Linked DNA regions of Homo sapiens. The protein of the gene in region 1 purifies or fractionates together with the protein of each later gene. This does not show direct contact. Each region holds a gene or a part of one and is shown on either strand. Other genes may lie near its edges.

Region 1 (4,925 bases):
AGGGTGGTGACAGCAGTCAGATGGAAATAGTGGACTGATGGACACAAAATACATTCTGAATATACATGCTGAGATTCACAATAAACTAAATTTATCATTTAGGGAGTATAAAAAGAAGAATGTTCCTATGTCACCATTTACTGAGAGCCTTCCAATGTATGAACTCTGGTAATCCAGGAAGCAGGCATTATTATTCCCAACTTACTGATAAGAAAACACTGAGAGGTTAAGTAATTTCCCTAAAGCCATAAAACTAGTGATAGGCAGAGATGAGGTCAGTCTCGGATCCTAGGATGGTCTCCTCCAAAATATATTTTATTTAATTAGGGGCCTTTATGGGGGGTGGCAGGAGAAAGGTTAGGGAGCTAGAGGTAGATGGGTGTGGGGGTGGGGGGGTAAACAAACTGACGAAGGGAACAAACAAGAGGAGAGATACGGACATTCTTCTGCCTCATTTGGAACTTGTCGGAGTACCAGTTCCCTTCTGCTGTAAAACCTGGGTGAAGAAGTGTTTGTGACTGTTACATCACACACAGGCATGGCCCAAGGAAGGCACTGCCATTCCTCAAATATCAAGCTGCTTCTTACCTTAGGGCCTCTGCACTTGTGGTTCCCTCTGAGAGGAATGCTCCCTTCCCCTCATATCACTTGGTTGACCCCTCCTACTACAAACGGCAAAAATGTCACCGTATGTGCCCTTGGCTTAGTCCCCGTTTTTGCCAGGGTGGTTCCTTCTTGTTAAATGTCTCCTCCTTAGTGAGTTCTCCCTGCTCAGCTGATTTAAAATAGTACTCTGCTCCCCTCACCCCTAATTCACTATCACAGTCTACTGGTTTTATCTTTTTTCTTTCATAGCATTTATCTGGTTTTGTTTATTGTCCTCCTTTCCCTGCTGCCCCAAGCTCAAATGCAAGTTGTACAAGAGTAGGACTTGTGTGTCTTAATTACACTGTCTCCCAGGATTTAGAACAAAAGCTGGAACACAGCGGGCACATGACAAGATTTTTGTTGAATGAATGAATGATAGTGAGGGAAAGGAAGAAATTCAAGATGACTACTAGATTTTGCGGGGGTGAGGCACAGCTGTGCTTAGCCAGGCGACTCCAAAGGAGAGCCTTTGAGCAGAAGGCCAGCCTGAGCCAAGGCCTGGAGGTCAGGAGTGGTGGATGGGTATGGGAAATGGGTTCTGGGGCAGGGTGGTGTGCTGGGGGCTTGCCTGGGATATGGCTGGAGAGGGAAGCAGGAGGTTTCTGTAGGAATTTTTAAAAGTTACCAGCATTTTTGTCCTAATGTGGAAGAAGCTCGTCACAGAATTATTTCAGGAAACTGCTTTTCTCCAAGCAAAATCTGGTAGTGGGAAGGAGGATGTAGATACTTCCTCATCAATGACTGCTGAAAAGATGCAGCGGCATTGTCAGTCACAGCGAGGCCCGGGTCGGGGCAGAGGCATCATTGCAGTCAGAGCTTGGCCCAAATGGAGGCCGCAGTGGCTTTGTTGCTCCAAATGACATGGTTTAGTTATTTTGATGGCCAAAGAGTATTCTTTGTGCATATACATTACAGTTTCTTGATCCCTTCATCTGTAGATGGACAGGAGATAAAGTTTTTGGAATCTCCATGCCTGAGATTAAAAGGTGTGGGACTTCCTCTACCAGGCTCATTTCCTTGGACCTAATATCCTCTGGGTTTCTTGGGTTTCTCCACATGGCTGTGGATGACAGGATTTCCCAAAGCTTTATGGCTGAAGCATATTCCATAGTGTATCTGTATGGTGGTTTCTTTATCCCTTCAGCTGTGGGTGGACAGGACAGGTCATTTACCATGATGTCCTCTAGGTTCAACAGTGTGGCTGCAAATGATGTAATTTCATTACATTTTTCTGGATGAAGAGTATTCCATTTGTGTATATATACTACAGTTTCTTTATCCCTTCATCTGCGGATGAACAGGTTTCTCCACATGGCTGCAAATGACAGGATTTCATCCACTTCTGTCGTGGAAGGGTATTCCATTCTGGATATATATTTCAGTTTTGTCATCCCTTCATCAAGGGATGAACAGGTTCAACTGTGTGGCTCCAGGTGATATGATTTCAGTATATGTGCACAGCTGAAGGGTATTCCATTGTGAATGAATACTACAGTTTCTGTATCCCTTCATCTGTGGATGAACAGGTCTCTCTCCACGTTGCTGGAAGTGGGGTGATGTCCTAAAGTTTGATGGCTGAAGAGTATTCCATTGTGCAAATATCCTGGAGTTTCTGTATTCCTTCATCTGTGGATGAACACGACTGCTTTACATTTGGCCTGTGCCAATGGCCATGTGGAAGTGGTCACTCTCCAGGTGAACTGAAAGTGCCAGACTGACATTGGTGACAAATGAAACAGGATGCCTTTGATGAAGGCTGTACATTGCCAAGAAGAGATTTGTGTCATCATTCTGCTAGAATGTGGCACCAACCCAGATCTTATGGATGTCTATAGCAACAATGCACTACACTATGCTGTGTATAATGAGAATACACTACTGGCAGAAAAACTGCCCTCACACCATGTGAATACTGAAGTGCTGAACAAGGATACTGAAGTGCTGAACAAGGATGCAAACACACCACTTTTACTTGCTATAGTTTGCAAAACACAGCAAAAGGTGGAATTTTAGTGAAGAAACAAGCAAATGTACATGCTGTTGATAGGTTGAAAAGAACAGCTCTCATGCCTGTTGTACATTATGGCTTGTCAGGTATAGTTAGCATTCTTCTTCAACAAAATATTGTCTTTACTCAAGAGTATGTATGAACAGACTGCAGATTATGCTATTTCTGGTGGTCTGACAAGCACTCACAACAAATTTTGCAACATTAAAAAAAAAAGATACTTGAAAATGGTCTTCAAAATGACAACCCAGAAGAAGCATCCAAGAAGAATGCAAGTTTGAAAACAGGAGGAGCAAGTGCAAAAGATTCTGGGAGTTCTGAAGCATCTGCATTCAGTATTTAAAAAAAAACTGTGTGTTGACTCATGGCCTAAACCAGATGATGAAGACTTGACTTTTACTACCAAGCAGTGTATCCCTGAGAGTGTTTCAAAGTCTTTACTTGGACCTTCATATAAAAAAGGAAAAAATATATAGTAAATGGAAAGGGAGAAGGGCCTCCTGAAAAACATCCTTCCCTAAAGCCTACCATGGAAATGAAAGATTCTGTTGTGAAGAAAGCAATAGAAAGGAAGAACGAACAAACATCCAAAGCAGAACAAGAAGTACAAGTGACATCAGAGGAAGAACAGGAAAAGCTTGAAAGTGAAAATAAACAGCCACAGGTTGAAGAAGCTAGAAAGAAGCACGAAAGTTAAAAAAAAAAAGTATCAAAAAAACGTATATGATAGTACATCTGCTGACGATGATGATAAATTAATTCAACAAAGAAAGAGTGGAAAAACTTACCATCAGCGATTTCCTAGGAAGGAGAACAAAGAGTATGCTAGGCCTGCAAAGAAAATGTCAAATGAAAAGAAAAAGGTCAAAAAGCAAACTCATTTAGAGATGAACCTGATGACTTAACTCGGCCCTCTGAAACAGCTTCAGAGGATCATGAGAAACCTTACCCTCATTGTAAGAAGTTTATGATGCTCATTAAGCAATATGGAATGGATTGTAATGATTCTCGTATCCTAATGGAAGTCCAGAATGCATTTCTTTCATGTGAAAAGTCACTGGACCTTAAAAAAAATTATCTGTGAACAACTTACACTAGACAATAAGAAATATGAAAACTGAGTTTAGTGTACTGAAGGAGCTATCCAAAACACAAGAAACGAAGTCACAGTTCAATATCAAAAAGTAGAATGGAAACAGGAACTCTACAGTTTGCAGCTTAGAAGAAGATGAGAAGAAATGCTAATATGTTATATGAAAAAATTAGGGAAGAGTTAGAAAGGAAAGTGGAGCAACATAGGAAAGAAGTTGAAGTAAAAGAACAGCTTAAACTGACTATCGGATCACTAGAAATAGAATTGAAGGCTTGAAGAAATACTTTAAGAAAAAAAAAGATCTGATGCATGAAAATTGCTTGTTGAAGAGAGATATTGCCTTTATTGTGTATGTAAGTATACACAATAAAAAATAGGAACCTCGAAAGGGAAAAAGGACATTGAAATTGTTAAAGAAATGAATGATGACCTTCAAGAGACTATAAAACTGAATGGAAAAACATTAACAAAAACAGTATCCCAGTATGGTCAACAGCTTAACGACCTCAAAACTGAGAATACAATGCTCAAGTCTAAACTGGAGAAGGAAAATCAAAACAAGGAAAGACTGGAAGCTGAAGTTGAGTCATTCCATGCTAGACTGGCTGCTGCTATAAGTGAGTGTGATCAAAGTGTGAAAACAAAAAGAGACCTAGAACTTGCTTTACAGAGAGCACAAGACGTTTCTTTACAAGAAAGAAAATGAGTTCTGATATTTCTGAACTAAAAGATAATAATGAGTTTTTAACTGAGCAACTTTCCGAAGCTCGAATTCAATACCCTAAAAAGTAAACTCCATGACACAAGAAATTCTCTCAGAGAAAAGGTTTTGGTTTTATAAAGTGTACAAAAGGACCTAAGCCAAGTAAATCCTTTGGAAAGTGGGACTACGTAGAGGAGAGAATATCTCAACTACAACATGAAAATCTGTTGCTTCAACAACTAGATGGTGCTCATAAGAAAGGGGATAATGAACAAAAGGTAATTAATATCCAAGGATGCTGTCTTGAGAGTGAAAAGGAAGGTCTTCTGCTAGAAGGGAAAAATAAGGAATTAATCAATGAATGCAATCATTTAAAAGACTGTTTCAGTATGAAAAAGAGAAAGCAGAAGGAGAAGTAAGTATCAAAAAAGATAAATATTTTCAAACTTCCAGAAGGAAAATTTAAAATATTT
Region 2 (4,925 bases), on another chromosome or scaffold:
TGGCCCGTGTGGGGCTTCTCATGTACCAGCCCTGGTGTGGCCACAGGGGCGTCCGAGGGCATGATTCTGCTATGGGGCTTCATCTGCCCGCCCCCAATTCCGTGGGTGGCTCCCACCAGACATTAAGATGTTGTTCTGCTTTAAGATGATCCAACAAAGCTGCCCCAGGCGCCTGAAGGCAACTGCATTTCATACTCGAAGGTTCCACCAGGTCACTCGAGTGTGAGCACCGAGAGCCTGCCCCTCAGGGCCCTGTATGGGCTTAGACTTAGTGGTGATCAGGACGCAGGATTTAAGGGGAGCACTGAGTGCTTGGGAGGAGGGGTCCTCCCAGAGCTCTGTCTGCAGGAGATGATGGCTGCTCGGCTCACCTGCAGGGCCACAGTGAAGTGGCTGGTTTTAGTGTCTCGGACGATGCTAGTGTTCATGGCTGACTGGATACCCCATCGCCACTGCAGGTAGCCCACGGTGTTCTTGTCTAGGTTCCGAGCTAGGACAGTGGTCAGGCCGGGTCGGATTCCACGGGATGAAAACTGCAGAGCACAGTTTGTTGTCACAAAGCTGGAGAGACACAGAGACAGAATAGGTCCTGGATAGCACCTGCTCTCAGCTGTTCTGTTACTTCCTCTCTGCCTGGCTAAGACCTCACTTACTGTCACGTCTATGCATCCCTGGGCCAGCTCCCAGTAAAAAAAAAAGCAGGAGGTCAGGCCTCTATCCACACAGAGGGGGAGGGTCCTAGCCAGAATCTTCCTAGTAACCTCCCGACTCCCCTCAGCCGCCCTAACTTTAGCTACAACCAAATAGGCACCTGACTGTCTGCATTCCTATGCCAGCAGATGCAACCCCACTCAAGTTAGAATGGATGGGGGCCGAGGAGTGCAAGTCAGAATCACCAACGGAGGGTCTCATATTAAGCAGTCCAAGACAGTGGTGCTCATACTGCACGCTGGAATCACCTGGCTCATCCACAAATCACGGCTGGTGGCTTCTTCGCCGGCATGCTGATTCCTTCAGTGTGGGCTTGGAGTGCTAAGTGTCCCAATGATTCCAATGTGCAGTAGAGTTTGAGAATCACTTACCTAGAGGACACCCCAGACCTATGGAACCAGAATTTCTGGGTGGAGGCATCAGTATATTTTTGGAGCTGCTGTGTGATTTCTGATGTACTAGTGACCACAGCTGGGTACTAGTGACAGAAACTACAGGCAAAGCGAGCACAGGAAACCGGTTCCCGAAAAGAGCCTCTGCAGTTTCTTTCCAAGGGAGTCCAGCCCCATCTTCTGGTTGAAAAGAGGTATTTCATTTTACTAACAGAAATTCACACTTCATTCAAGGTGCTGAAGGGTAAACTAACAGCTGGTTTCTTTAATAAAGAGCTCCACATCAATTGCCTAAGTTTCTTTCTCTCCTTTCTAAGCTCTGGAGGTGATGTTTATGCCATTAAAATAACAGTAGGCAGGCTCATTGGCTCACACCTGTAACCCCAGCACTTTGGGAGGCTGAGGAGGCAAATTGCTTCACCCCAGGAGTTCAAGGACAGCCTGGACAACATGACAAAACCCCCATCTCTACAAAAAAGACACAAAATTAGCCAGGTGTAGCGGCACGCCCTGTAGTCTCAGCGACTGAGGAGGAAGGAGCACTTGAGCCTGGACAGGTCTTTTTTTTTTTTTTTTTTTTTTGACGGAGTTTCGCTCGTCCAGGCTGGAGTGCAGTAGCGTGATCTTCTCAGCTCACTGCAACCTCCGCCTCCTGGATTCAAGTGATTCTCCTGCCTCAGCTTCCTGGGTAGCTGGGACTACAGGCGCCCACCACCATGTCCGGTTAATATTTTGTATTTTTAGTAGAGATGGGGTTTCACCATGTTGGCCAGACTGGTCTCGAATTCCTGCCCCCAGGTGATCCACCTGCCTCAGCCTCCCAAAGTGCTGGGATTATAGGCACGAGCCACTGTGCCCAGCCAACAGGTCGATATTTTTGATTTAAGATGGCTTATTCGGCCGTAACTCCATCGTAAATCAAGGAACATCTGCAACTTGATCCAAGGATTAGAGGACCGTGGTTAGCAGACATCCATAACTAACCTGGCCACTATATATTAAGAAACTGGGCTAGTAGGCCGGGCGCGGTGGCTCACGCCTGTAATCCCAGCACTTTGGGAAGCCGAGGTGGGTGGATCACAAGGTCAAGTGATTGAGACCATCCTGGCCAACATGGTGAAACCCCGTCTCTAGTAAAAATACAAAAATTAGCTAGGCGTGGTGGCATGTGCCTGTAGTTCCAGTTACTTGGGAGGCTGAGGCAGAATAGCTTGAACCTGGGAGGTGGAGGTTGCAGTGAGCCAAGACTGCGCCACTGCACTCCAGCCTGGTGACAGAGCAAGACTCCGTCTCAAACACAAAACAAAACAAACAAAAAAAAGAAGCTGGCATCCTTGGTCACACATCACCCCCTTGTTTATAAATCAGTTGTCCTTCCGTTTAAATCTGCTCAAGTCTAATAAGCTCTGAGTAGTAAAACTAAATTCAATTTCCAAACCTGTAAATGCTGATGATCAGTCCACCCCAAACTCTTGGTGACCACTCAATGAATAGACACTGAGGCTCAACCAGAACAAAACGGCCAAAAGATTTTGCTTAATGAAGTGTCTCCCAAGCTTGTGTGACCTTAAGAATCACCTGGGGCGCTTGAAACACCTAGATTCCCAGTCCCCTCCCTCATAAGACCCAAAGCAGCTTTTTTTCTTTTTTTTGAGACAGAGTCTCGGCTCTGTCGCCCAGGCTGGAGTGCAGTGGCACGATCTTGGCTCACTGCAACCTCTGCCTCCCGGGTTCAGGCAATTCTCCTGCCTCAGCCTCCCAAGTAGCTGGAATTACAGGTGCCCACCACCACGCCTGGCTAATTTTTGTATTTTTAGTAGAGACAGGGTTTCACCATGTTGGCCAGGCTTGTCTTGAACTCCTGACCTCAGGCGACCCGCCTGCCTTGGCCTCCCAAAGTGTTGGGATTACAGGCATGAGCCACCGCACCTGACCAGCATTTCTTTTTTCTTTTGAGAGAGGGTCTTGCTCTGTCACCTAGGCTGAAGTGCAGTGGTGTCATCATGGCTCACTGCAGCCTCGACCTCCTGGCCTCAAGCGATCCTCCCACCTCAGCATCCCAAGTAGCTGGGATTACAGGTGTGTGCTACCACACCTGGTTAATTTTTATATTTTTTGTAGAGTCAAGGTTTTGCCATGTTGCCTAGGCTGGTCTCAAACTCCTGAGCTCAAGTGATCGTCTCACCTGGCCTCCTAAAGTGCTGGGATTACAAGCATGAGCCACCACACCCTGCCCCCGAGGCGGCTTTTAACCAGCATCTGGGGTGACCAATCTAAGTAGACAGGGTCAGGACAACACTGATGTGTATACAGATGCTGTTTCCCTGCTGTTCTCTTCTAAGTATGAATCCCGGTCCCCTTTGCAGACCCAGTAGGTGAATCCAATTACGTAGAGCAGGGGACTGTGGAGCTGTGTTGTGAGCAGCACCCAGGTGATGCCCCATGGCAGCATGTCCCACATTCCTTCCATCTTTTAAAAAAAATTTTTCTCGGTGGCAGTCTTGCTCTGTCGCCTAGGCTGGGGTACAGTGGTGCAATCTCAGCTCATTGCAGCCTCAACCTCCCGGGTTCAAGCAATCCTCCCACCTTGGCCTCCCAAAGCCCTGGGATTGCAGGTGTGAGTCACATCGGCTCCTTTTCCTCTTCTTGTGTCTGGAAGCACTGCTTTTTTTTTTTTGAGACAGAGTCGCCCAGGCTGGAGTGCAGTGGCGCGATCTCGGCTCACTGCAAGCTCCGCCTCCTGGGTTCACGCCATTCTCCTGCCTCAGCCTCCCGAGTAGCTGGGACTAAAGGCGCCCGCCACCGCTCCCGGCTAATTCTTTGCATTTTTAGTAGAGACAGAGTTTCACCGTGTTAGCCAGGATGGTCTCGATCTCCTGATCTCGTGATCCACCCGCCTCGGCCTCCTAAAGTGCTGGGATTAGAGGCATGAGCCACCGTGCTCAGCCAGGAAGCACTGCTTTGGTGCCTAAGCGGCCTCCGCCTGCCCCACAGGCCACGTCCTCCTGTTTCGCAGGCTCTCTCCCAACTTCTCCTGCTCTCCCTACAACAGGCTGACCTGCAAGCCTGCCTGTGTTCTCTGCCCCATGCCCCACAGACAAACGACCAGACTAGTGGGCAGGGATTAGGTCAACCCCTGCAGAGCGTGGCAGGCACACAGATACATGTCTCATTGGAAGTGTAATAACTAACTTTTTTTTTTTTTTTGAGACAGTCTTGCTCTGCTGCTTAGGCTGGAGTACAGTGGTGTGATCTTGGATCATTGCAACCTCCGCCTCCTGGGTTCAAGAGATCCTCCCACCTCAGCCTCCCAAGTAGCTGGGACTACAGGCAAGCGCCACCATGCCTGGTTAATTTTTATATTTTTAGTAGAGGGGGTTTCGCCATGTTGGCCAGGCTGGTCTCGAACTCCTGTACATGTTTGTACATGTTTGTACAGCCTACAATACATGTTTGATAAGAAAGTTATTCATGCCACTGTGCCTGGGCACAGTGGCTCACACCTGTAATGCCAGCACTTTGGGAGGCCAAGGTGGGAGGATCACCTGAGGTCAGGAGTTAAGAGACCAGCCTGGCCAACAAGGAGAAACCCCAACTCTACAAAAATTAGTCAGGCATGGTGGTGCACACCTGTAGTCCCAGCTACTCAGGAGGGTCACCTGAGCCTGGGAGGTTGAGGGTGCAGTGAGCCAAGATTGCATCACTATTCTCCAGCCGGGGTGACAAAGTGAGACCTGTCTCAAAACAAAAAACATATACTCCAGGCTTGCTGAAGTGGCTCATGCTTCTAATCTCAGTGCTTTGGGAGGCCAAGGTGGGAGG
Region 3 (4,925 bases), on another chromosome or scaffold:
TTGTACTTAATTTTCTAAGTCTACTCCTTGGATTAATCCAAGTCTATTAAAATAACTACAAATCATATACACTTACAAACTCTTATTATTGTTCAAATATCTGAGTCTATTTTCAAAAATATCAATAACTTATGTTTGTAAGTTATTACAACTGACAAAACATAGTTTTCCTATATAAATGAAACATATTGAATTTCAGTCTTTAGAGTAACACTGTATGGTAGATGGGGCAACTGTCCTCTCCATTTTTACACATAACAAAACTAAGATTTCAGAAGGAGAAAAGGGACTTGCCTTATCCGTATGTGAAACTACACTTGAATGACAGAATTAGCACTCAAATATTAATACAATGCTATTTCCACCATAAGATGCTGTCACTAAGCCAAATGGTGCCCTCACTTAATAAAAACTGTAATCTAGATACCTGTTTATCAACCAGGAGATTCAAGATTACATCTCATCAGTCTAAGTATATTCTGCTCTAAAGAATGTCTCAAAGCCAGGTGTCACTGATTGGAGAGATACAAAATCCACACAAAAGTGTTTCTCACAGAAAAGTGTTTCTCACCCGGGCACGGTGGCTCATGCTTGTAATCCCAGCACTTTGGGAGGCTGAGGCGGGCGGATCACCTAAGGTCGGGAGTTCAAGATGAGCCTGACCAACATGGAGAAACACCATCTCTACTAAAAATAGAAAATTAGCTGGGCGTGGTGGTGCATGCCTGTAATCCCAGCTACTTGGGAGGCTGAGGCAGGAGAATCGCTTGAACCCGGGAGGAGGAGGTTGCAGTGAGCCGACAACATGCCACTGCACTCCAGCCTGGGCAACAAGAGCGAAACTCTCTCAAAAAAAAAAAAAAAAAGTGTTTCTCTACCTTTAACCATGAAAAACGAATGAAAAAGACCAAAGGGAGATTATTTGTTGGCAACAAGACTCATAAGAAACTATCCATTATTGGTGGATCATTTCAACTCCAACAACCTCCATGCATTCTTACTTTGTTATGTAAGATAAAATTCAGAGCAAAAGACACAGTATTAGACCTACTAGTGTACACACAGTGGTTTCTAAGCAGTACCATTCAAAGCAGGTTTCTAGATGTAAATTTCTCAAAAGAAAACTGAAAAGATACTATCACCCTTTCCTCATGAGCAATTAAATATAACTTCTTCCAGCTGTATAATACTCATACTTTCTGAAAAAGAATCTCCATTTCATAAATAATATCAACTTAAACCTTGCTACTTACCCAGAGAAAGTCCTTGTAAGCATAGTAATATAGCCAGTCATGGACCACCACATTCCAGGTTCTATAATAGTTGGAGTATGACGTGGAGTTCCACCAATCCTGAGGGAAAAAGTAAAGGTATAAAACTACACACACACACACACACACACACACACACACACACACACACACACACACACACATCCCACCCGAAAGCAAACCCCCCTGACTTCCCAAAGAACATATGTAACAGAAAAATCAAATTATACTGTGATAAACTGTTGGTTCATACACTGGTGACAGAAAAATCTTCAAAGGCATTTTGGTTATTAGTGTTGAATATGACATGAATTCTCATACTATATATGATTTAGTTCCTAGGTTCATACGGAACACATAGAATCATTTAAATCTAATGTTCATCTAAACAGCAATCAGTAAGCCCCACCCCCCTTACCCTACTAGAATGTCATGAGAAAATTCTATGGTCATGAAGACCAGAGAGAGTGCTAACACTAGAGAGCTGTTTGGTGGTTACCATAAATGGCAAAATTATCCAGGGTGAGATGGTGGCTACCTCAAAGTCCTGGTATCCCTATATATGCTTCTTGCTCCCAATATTAAGATCAGATGAATGAAATCAGGTATCTAAAATCTGCAATCCACACTTAAAGTTTCTTTGAGAAAAAAGGTGGTAGACTTGGAGTGTTGCCAAAAACAACTCAAAGAGAGCTTTAGGTAGGGTTAAAGAATGCTATGAGCCATTCTGACTCTAATTCTATAGCTTAATTCCAACTTTAGAAGCATAAGGATACTATCTGAAGCAAAATTAACACCTTTCAAAACTAAAGAGGGAAAAGTTATTTCCCTCATGAACTGCTCAATTGTCTTAAATGGAATAATTTGCTGAGGTCATTCCTACAGAACTAGACGGTCCATTTCAAATGAATGAACACTCAGGGAAGTCTCATGGTGTGCTCTGAACAAACAGTTTCCTACTGGAATCACCAATATATCCTTGCAGGATCCAGCAGAAACCATGTGCTTATGTTAAGGGAGCAGATATTAGAGACAGAAGAAAACACAAGGTTATGCTAGTTATATCTGTAACCGAATTTCAGAAAATACTGGCAAAACTTGTAGAAAAGAAAATTATTTCACAATGTTTGTGTGAAAGGCTGGTGACATTAGCCAACAATGTCAAAATACTAATAATGAAGAAGTTAATAAAATGTAAAAAGAAAGCTAAGTCTAAGTATATACTACCTTATAGAACATCCTGTCACCAAAGCGTAACATCTCAGCAAAGGCATTGAGCCAGCAGTGCAAAAAGGCAAAAAAAGTAAGGAAGAGAATCAGCACACCTAAAAATAAGATTAACAATATTAACAGTCTTTCCAAATAGCTCACATACCAAGCAACTAATTATATCACATCATTTTATTTAGCTGGGATTATTTTGTAAAATATAAGTTATTATTCCAGTTTACCCATTCCAGAGATGATATACTTTTGGAGTTAATTATCTTAATTTTAAAACAGTAACTTCCTTCAAAGTGGGTTCAACAAATGACATTACCCAGTCTGGTTTTTTTTTTTCTTTTTTGAGACAGAGTCCTGCTCTGTCACCCAGGCTGGAGTGCAGTGGCGCGATCTCGGCTCACTGCAACCTCTGCCTCCAGGGTTCAAGCAATTCTCCTGCCTCAGCCTCCCAAGTAGCTGGAACTACAGGCATGTACCACCACATCTGGCTAATTTTTTGTATTTTTAGTAGAGACCGGGTTTCACCATGTTGGCCAGGCAGGTCTCAATCTCCTGACCTTGTGATCTGCCCACCTCAGCCTCCCGAAGTGCTAGGATTACAGGCGTGAGCCATCGCGCCCAGCCTACCCAGTCTGTTTTTAAGAAATGCCTAAATATATGGCTTAACTTAGTACCCAAGGTCCTTTAAAAATCTGGCCCCCATACCCCCCTCTTAAACAATTGTTTAAAACTGGGAGAGATTTTGCCCCCTCTCCCCCACAGGACATTTGAAATTCTAGAGACTTTTTGTTTTTAAAAGACAGGGTTTCACTATGTTGCCCAGGCTGAACTTCAACTCCTGGGGCTCAAGTGATCCTCCCACCTCAGCCTCCAGAATAGCTGGGACTACCGGTGCAAGCTACTGCACCAGTGCTGTGACAATTGGAGGAGAGGGAGTGGTGCCACTGGTATCTAGTTGTTAGAGGCCAGGATGCTGCTGAACAGTTTATGCTACAATGCAGAAGAATGCCACTCCAAACAAAGAATTAACCAGTCCAAAATGTTAATAGTGACATGGTTAACATAGTGACATGGATAACATTCTAAACATATCTCCAGTGATTCTACCCTCTAAGTGTTGTAAACATTATCCACAACTGGGTTTATGCCATTCCAGAATGCTCCATGCCCTTGCATCCATCCCACTACCTAGAATGACCTTTCCACCAATTCTCTGCCAGGCAAATACCTACCTATTTTTCAATACCCAATATTAAATGTTATCTCTAATGTGAAACAAAGGCCATAAGCATTTTGTTTATCCTACTTATGTAGTACATATTACAATATATTGTAAAATATCCATTTATATGTCCATCTCTTTCACTCATTTATTGAAAAATATATATTTATAGAGCATCAACTATGTACCAGACAATATGAGAGAGACTGTGATTGGCTATAAAACACAATCCTTGAACTCAATAACTTTGCAGCTAGTGAGGAAGACACTCAAGTATGTAACACATATTCTATTTTAGGGACAGATACAGAGTTCATTCAAATAAGTCCTGGGGCTGGTGAGGGAGGGTTACTGGAAGAGGAATGCAAGAGAAGAAAAGAAAGGGAAGGTGATGACAGAAAACATTACCAACATTCAATGAGTAAAGAAAAGAGGAAAAGTAAGGGAAACTATAAAAGCTCCCAGACTGTAAAGATAATACATCTCTTGTTCACTTCTGAGTCCTCTGCACCTGGCATAGTACTAGGTACTCATATATCTCTATAATAGACAAAAAAATGCAATAAATATATTTAAGAAATCAAGGTATGGTCGGAAAGACAGGAGGAAAATAAGAAATAGTGGCAAAAGGCCAAGCATGGTGGCTCAAGCCTGTAACCCCAGCACTTTGAGAGGCTGAGACAGGAGGATAACTTGAGCCCAGGAGTTTGAGAATGGCCTGGGCAACATAGGGAGACCCCGTCTCTCCAAAAAATAAAAACTTAGCCAGGCATGGTGGCATGCACCTGTAGTCCCAGCTACTGAGGCGAGAGGATCACTCGAGCCCCAGAGGTCGAGGCTAGTAAGCCATGATGACACCACTGCATTCAGACTGGGTGACAAAGAGAGACCCGATTTCAAAAAAAAAAAAGGCAAGAAAACAGTGACAAGAGAGATTTAAAAATGTGGTCAGCAGCACCCAATGCTTCATGGAGGTCAACTTGGATAAGGGGTAAAGTACATCTTAATCCATCCACTGGATTAGAATATGGATTACTAGTAATTTCTACAAGTAATTTCTACAAGTTACTAGTAATTTCAACAAGGGGCATTTAAGTGGCTTGGTGGAATCAGGAGCAAGATTACAATGAACTTAATAGCGAACAGGAAGACACAGCATGAATGTGGACTGTCCACTGTCAGAGAAAGGCACAACTTGAGTGAAAGCC
Region 4 (4,925 bases), on another chromosome or scaffold:
GTGATCAGCTCACTGCCACCTCCGCATCCTGGGTTCAAGCGATTCTCATGCCTCAGACTCCCAGGTAGCTGGGACTACAGGCGTGCACCACCATGACCAGTTAATTTTTATATTTTTAGTAGAGATGGGGTTTCACCATGTTGGCAAGGCTGGTCTCGAACTCCTGACCTCAGGTGATCCACCAGCCTCAGCCTCCCAAACTGCTGGGATTAGAGATGTGAGCCACCACCACGCCCGACCAAAACTGCTTCTTATTAATCTCTCACTTTTCATAAAAGTCATAATTAACTGTTGATATACTTACATGTTTATTTGGTAGTGGCAAATCTAATACTCTTCATGCAAACAGTCCCAAAAATATCTGTTTGATAATTAAGAAAACTCCGAATATTAAAAAAAAAAAAAAATTCGGACCAGGTACAGTGACTCACACTGGTATTTTTTTTTTTTTTTTTTGTGAGACGGAGTCTTGCTCTGTCGTCCAGGCTGGAGTGCAGTGGTGTGATCTCGGCTCACTGCAAGCTCTGCCTCCCGGGTTCACGCCATTCTCCTGCCTCAGCCTCCTGAGTAGCTGGGACTACAGGCGCCCACCACCACGCCTAGCTAATTTTTTTGTATTTTTAATAGAGACGGGGTTTCACGGTGTTAGCCAGGATGGTCTCGATCTCCTGACCTCGTGATCCGCCCGCCTTGGCCTCCCAAAGTGCTGGGATTACAGGCTTGAGCCACCACGCCCTGCCAGCTCACGCTTGTAAATCCCAGCACTTTGGGAGGCCAAGGCGGGTGGATCACCTGAGATCAGGAGTTCGAGACCAGCCTGACCAACATGGTGAAACTCCATCTCTACTAAAAACACAAAAATTTGCTGGGCGTGGTGGCAGGCACCTGTAGTCCCAGCTACTCCGGAGGCTGAGGCAGGAGCATCACTTGAACCCGAGAGGTGGAGGTTGCAGTGAGCCAAGATCGCACCATTACACTCCAGCCTGGGCAACAAGAGCGGAATTCCATCTCAAAAAAAAAAAAATTCTAAACTAGGGCACATCTCTTTACTACACCAGATAAAGGAACTGAAATATATTGTAATAGATAATTATGCATTCTCAAATTAATACTTACGATCACAATTTCAAATATCTAAGAAAGTTACTTTCTACAGTACTAAAAGGTACCAATCCTTTGTCATGCCTAAACAATAAGCTTAAAATAAAAATTCTATGCTTCTTGAAAAAATTAGTCTAAGACTATACAGAGATATTATTTGATAAAATGGTTGCATGAAATATAGCCCTATCTTGTGGTTTTGTGGTTTTTTTGGATTATATTTTTCACTGAGAGGTAACCCTCAAGCAGTACTAGAATCTTTTACTTTGAAATTCCCATGTAAATACTTAGTATTTTTATAGTCCTAACATCCACTTACAGCAGCATATTTCTTTTTTTTTTTTTGGAAACAGAGCCTTGCTCTGTCGCCTAGGCTGGAGTGCAGTAGCGTGATCTTGGCTCACTGCAACCTCCGCCTCCAGGGTTCAAGCGATTCTCCTGCCTCAGCCTCCCAAGTAGCTGGGACTACAGGCACACACCACTAAGCCTAGCTAATTTTTGTATTTTTAGTACAGACAGGGTTTCACCATATTGGCCAGGTTGGTCTCGAACTCCTGACCTTAGGTGATCCACCCACCTCAGCTTCCCAAAGTGCTGGGATTACAGATGTGAGCCACCACACCCCAGCCAAAGTAGTATATTTCACTTTAAGGTGCCACATAGATTGAACTTTTGAAAATTCTTAAGGTAATAATTTCACAAAAGAAAATTTAGTGTCTTTGGTCAGGCACGGTGGCTCACGCCTGTAATCTCAGCACTTTGGGAGGCTGAGGCAGGCAGATCATGAGGCCGGAGATCAAGACCATCCTGGCTAACACGGTGAAACCCCGTCTCTACTAAAAATACAAAAATTAGCCAGGCGTGGTGGCAGGTGCCTGTAGTCCCAGCTACTCGGGAAGCTGAGGCAGGAGAATGGCATGAACCCGGGAGGCGGAGCTTGCAGTGAGCTGAGATCGCACCACTGCACTCCAGCCTGGGTGACAGAGCCAGACTCCATCTCAAAAAAAAAAAGAAAGAAAATTTAGTGTCTTAACCAAAATTATTAAGTGTCAGGCTTAAGAGTCAGAATTTACAATTCTCATCTTAGGCTTTAATCAGATTTCTCTGTATCACTGAGATAGGTTCATGATGCATTAATCTAATTATGAGACCTGAAGCACACTCCTACCTGAATAGAATGGGACCAATATCCTGTGGTCCTTTTGGAAATCCCAAGAGTAGAAACAGCATGATGTGCATAGACTTTTGGCGAAGGCACCAACCACGAGCACCTGTGCAGAAAGTTGCTGGGTGCTGTCATGCTGGTGGCTACATAGAAAGGGATTAGACTCTGTACAAAGATTCCTTTAGAGGCATATTCATATTGCAAGGCTCTGCTGAAGTGGTCTAAATAAGCCTGTTGAGACAGAGGGGAGGAAAAGACTTTTAATTCTGGGTGAACTTGAAAATTCAGGAGAAAAAAAGACTTGCTTATTATCAATTCAGGAAAAAATACAGGATAAGCATATGTGAGTTGCTGACAAAGAGTTCAACAAATCAGACCAAACAACTGTTAATAAATGTTCTGTGGCATTAGGATTTCATCTTCCAGTAAGTAACATCTGACCTTAGAAGCAGAAAATGCAGCCAGCTGAGGAGTGGGTTTGCAGCAGGAGCCAGAAGAGATCGTGACGATGGCACCTTTCTTTCTCTCCACCATTCCCGGTAACACAACATGGACCATCAAACTAGCGGCGGCAATGTTCACATTTATGATGTCCCAGAGCTTGTCCTCGGACAGCTGAGTGAAATACTGCGGGTAGGGATAAAACACACCCACGTTATTTACCAAGATGCCAACGTCTTTGTCCTTCAGGGCTTCTCGAATTGGAAGGTAGATCTCACGACCGCTGCTGAAGTCCGCAACTATAATATCAGTTTCCACTTTGTACGTGTCGGCTATGTCTTTAGCAACAACCTGCAACTTCTCCTCGTTCCGACTAATCAGGATTATATTGAGACCTCGGCTTGCTAACTCTTCAGCGTAGGCTTTTCCAATCCCATCTGTTGCACCTAGGATGCAAGTCAGGAAAAGTGAGCATGTGTATTTCACGGTGTGACCCTTAAAATGGACCCAAAGTACCCCCTGTCAGGTTTAGTCAGAGAAAAATTCACACTAGAAATCAAGTCGGTTCTAGTATCTACAAGTCAAGGACACTGTTGCTGAATGAGGAATGTGAAGGGCGCATGCTATACACTCTCCCAGACATCCTGACACACGGACAGGGAGTTATTTTACATTCACCATATTGGTTAGGAGACACAGTAGGAATTTGTTTTCAAACTACTATCTGGCTTGAATGAGTGGCAGGAGGTGCTTTTCTGGGAAATCTTCATAAATTAAAATGAAATTCAAAATAGGTGAAGCATTTCTGAAAGTGGCAACACTTTCAAGACAATTTTAAAACAGAGAACAAAAAGGAAAAGCACATAGTAGGAAGTGGGTCTGGAGGAGGACTGGGAACAGGAGAGAGCAGAATAGGAAGGATACCAATCATGAGGCCAGTTCTTCCTAAGATGAGAGCAGTAAGAAAATGAAATGTGAACATAATCACGGCAGGAGCCATAAGTTTTATTTTTTTATCAGCATGTTCCCATAAAAACACCACATTAAATTCAATAGCTCCTTGAATAATGCATCCGACTTCACAGAAAAGATTATTTTGATTATAAAGTAGGTTACCGCTGACAACGGCCCATCTTCCATACTGCTTGATCAAGTCTGCTCTGCTCCCCAGGCGGGGGATAAAATGCAGCCTGATCAGGCTGTAAAAGTCACAGATGACAGTGATGCTTTTTCTGGCCGTATACCAGGCTCCAACCAAAGCTAGAGCTTCCATATAGCAATTGCAAGACCTGGCGATTTCCCTGTACAAGAGGTAGAAACTGTCAACAGCAGCCATGGCAACCTGCAGGGAGAGGGAAAGAGAGAGAGCCTCTTTGATTAATAAATTAAAGGAACATACACAGTCTGAGTGAAGACATCCAGCTGAGGGCATCAGATCTTGTCAATTGTACGTTCAAATAACACTAACTTTTCAAATGTACGTGGCTCACAGTTTCAGTCTATCTATCTATCTATCTATCTATCTATCTATCTATCTATCTATCTATCAGACAGAGTCTCACCCTGTCGCCCAGGCTGGAGTGCAGTGGTGCGATTTTGGCTCACTGCAACCTCCACCTCCCGGGTTCAAGCGATTCTCCTGCCTCAGCCTCCCAAGTAGCTGGGACTACAGGCACATGCCACCACGCCCGGCTAATTTTTTTTTTTTTTTTTGAGACGGAGTCTCGCTGTCGCCCAGGCTGGAGTGCAGTGGCGCAATCTCGGCTCACTGCAGGCTCCGCCCCCTGGGGTTCACGCCATTCTCCTGCCTCAGCCTCCGGAGTAGCTGGGACTACAGGCGCCCGCCACCTCGCCCGGCTAATTTTTTGTATTTTTAGTAGAGACAGGGTTTCACCGCGTTAGCCAGGATGGTCTCAAACTCCTGACCTCAGGTGATCCGCCACCCTTGGCCTCCCAAAGTGCTGGGATTACAGGTGTGAGCCACCATGCCTGGAGATTCAGCCAATTTATGATCTCACCATTTAACATCCGTAGCTTATAAAGTTACTTTCTTCCAAGGAGACTAATCAACATAACTACCAGAAGTTACCAAATTCCCACTAAAATTCAGGTACTACACTACATGCTGTGGCTACAGAGATAAACACAATATGCTCTGTGCCTGTAACATGCTCCTAGTCTAATAATAACAAACACAAAGCTTCTAATTCATACAGCA

What was found. The genes of interacting proteins can lie anywhere in the genome.
Region 2: the proteins of SAYSD1 (region 1) and DNAJC11 purify together in Homo sapiens (affinity purification with mass spectrometry; one large-scale study listed by BioGRID and IntAct). This does not show direct contact.
Region 3: the proteins of SAYSD1 (region 1) and SOAT1 purify together in Homo sapiens (affinity purification with mass spectrometry; one large-scale study listed by BioGRID and IntAct). This does not show direct contact.
Region 4: the proteins of SAYSD1 (region 1) and HSDL1 purify together in Homo sapiens (affinity purification with mass spectrometry; one large-scale study listed by BioGRID and IntAct). This does not show direct contact.

The regions. Positions count from the first base shown.
Region 1 is NC_000006.12:39,108,041-39,112,965, forward strand, and holds part of SAYSD1 (SAYSvFN domain-containing protein 1), read right to left. Parts: exon of another isoform or gene 1,280-4,925; coding exon of another isoform or gene 1,274-1,279; intron 1-1,273. UniProt on the Homo sapiens protein: Ufmylation 'reader' component of a translocation-associated quality control pathway, a mechanism that takes place when a ribosome has stalled during translation, and which is required to degrade clogged substrates.
Region 2 is NC_000001.11:6,645,418-6,650,342, forward strand, and holds part of DNAJC11 (dnaJ homolog subfamily C member 11), read right to left. Parts: intron 562-4,925; coding exon 372-561; intron 1-371.
Region 3 is NC_000001.11:179,345,271-179,350,195, reverse strand, and holds part of SOAT1 (sterol O-acyltransferase 1), read right to left. Parts: intron 2,597-4,925; coding exon 2,499-2,596; intron 1,353-2,498; coding exon 1,254-1,352; intron 1-1,253.
Region 4 is NC_000016.10:84,127,279-84,132,203, forward strand, and holds part of HSDL1 (inactive hydroxysteroid dehydrogenase-like protein 1), read right to left. Parts: intron 4,050-4,925; 5' UTR 4,044-4,049; coding exon 3,824-4,043; intron 3,154-3,823; coding exon 2,708-3,153; intron 2,498-2,707; coding exon 2,270-2,497; intron 1-2,269.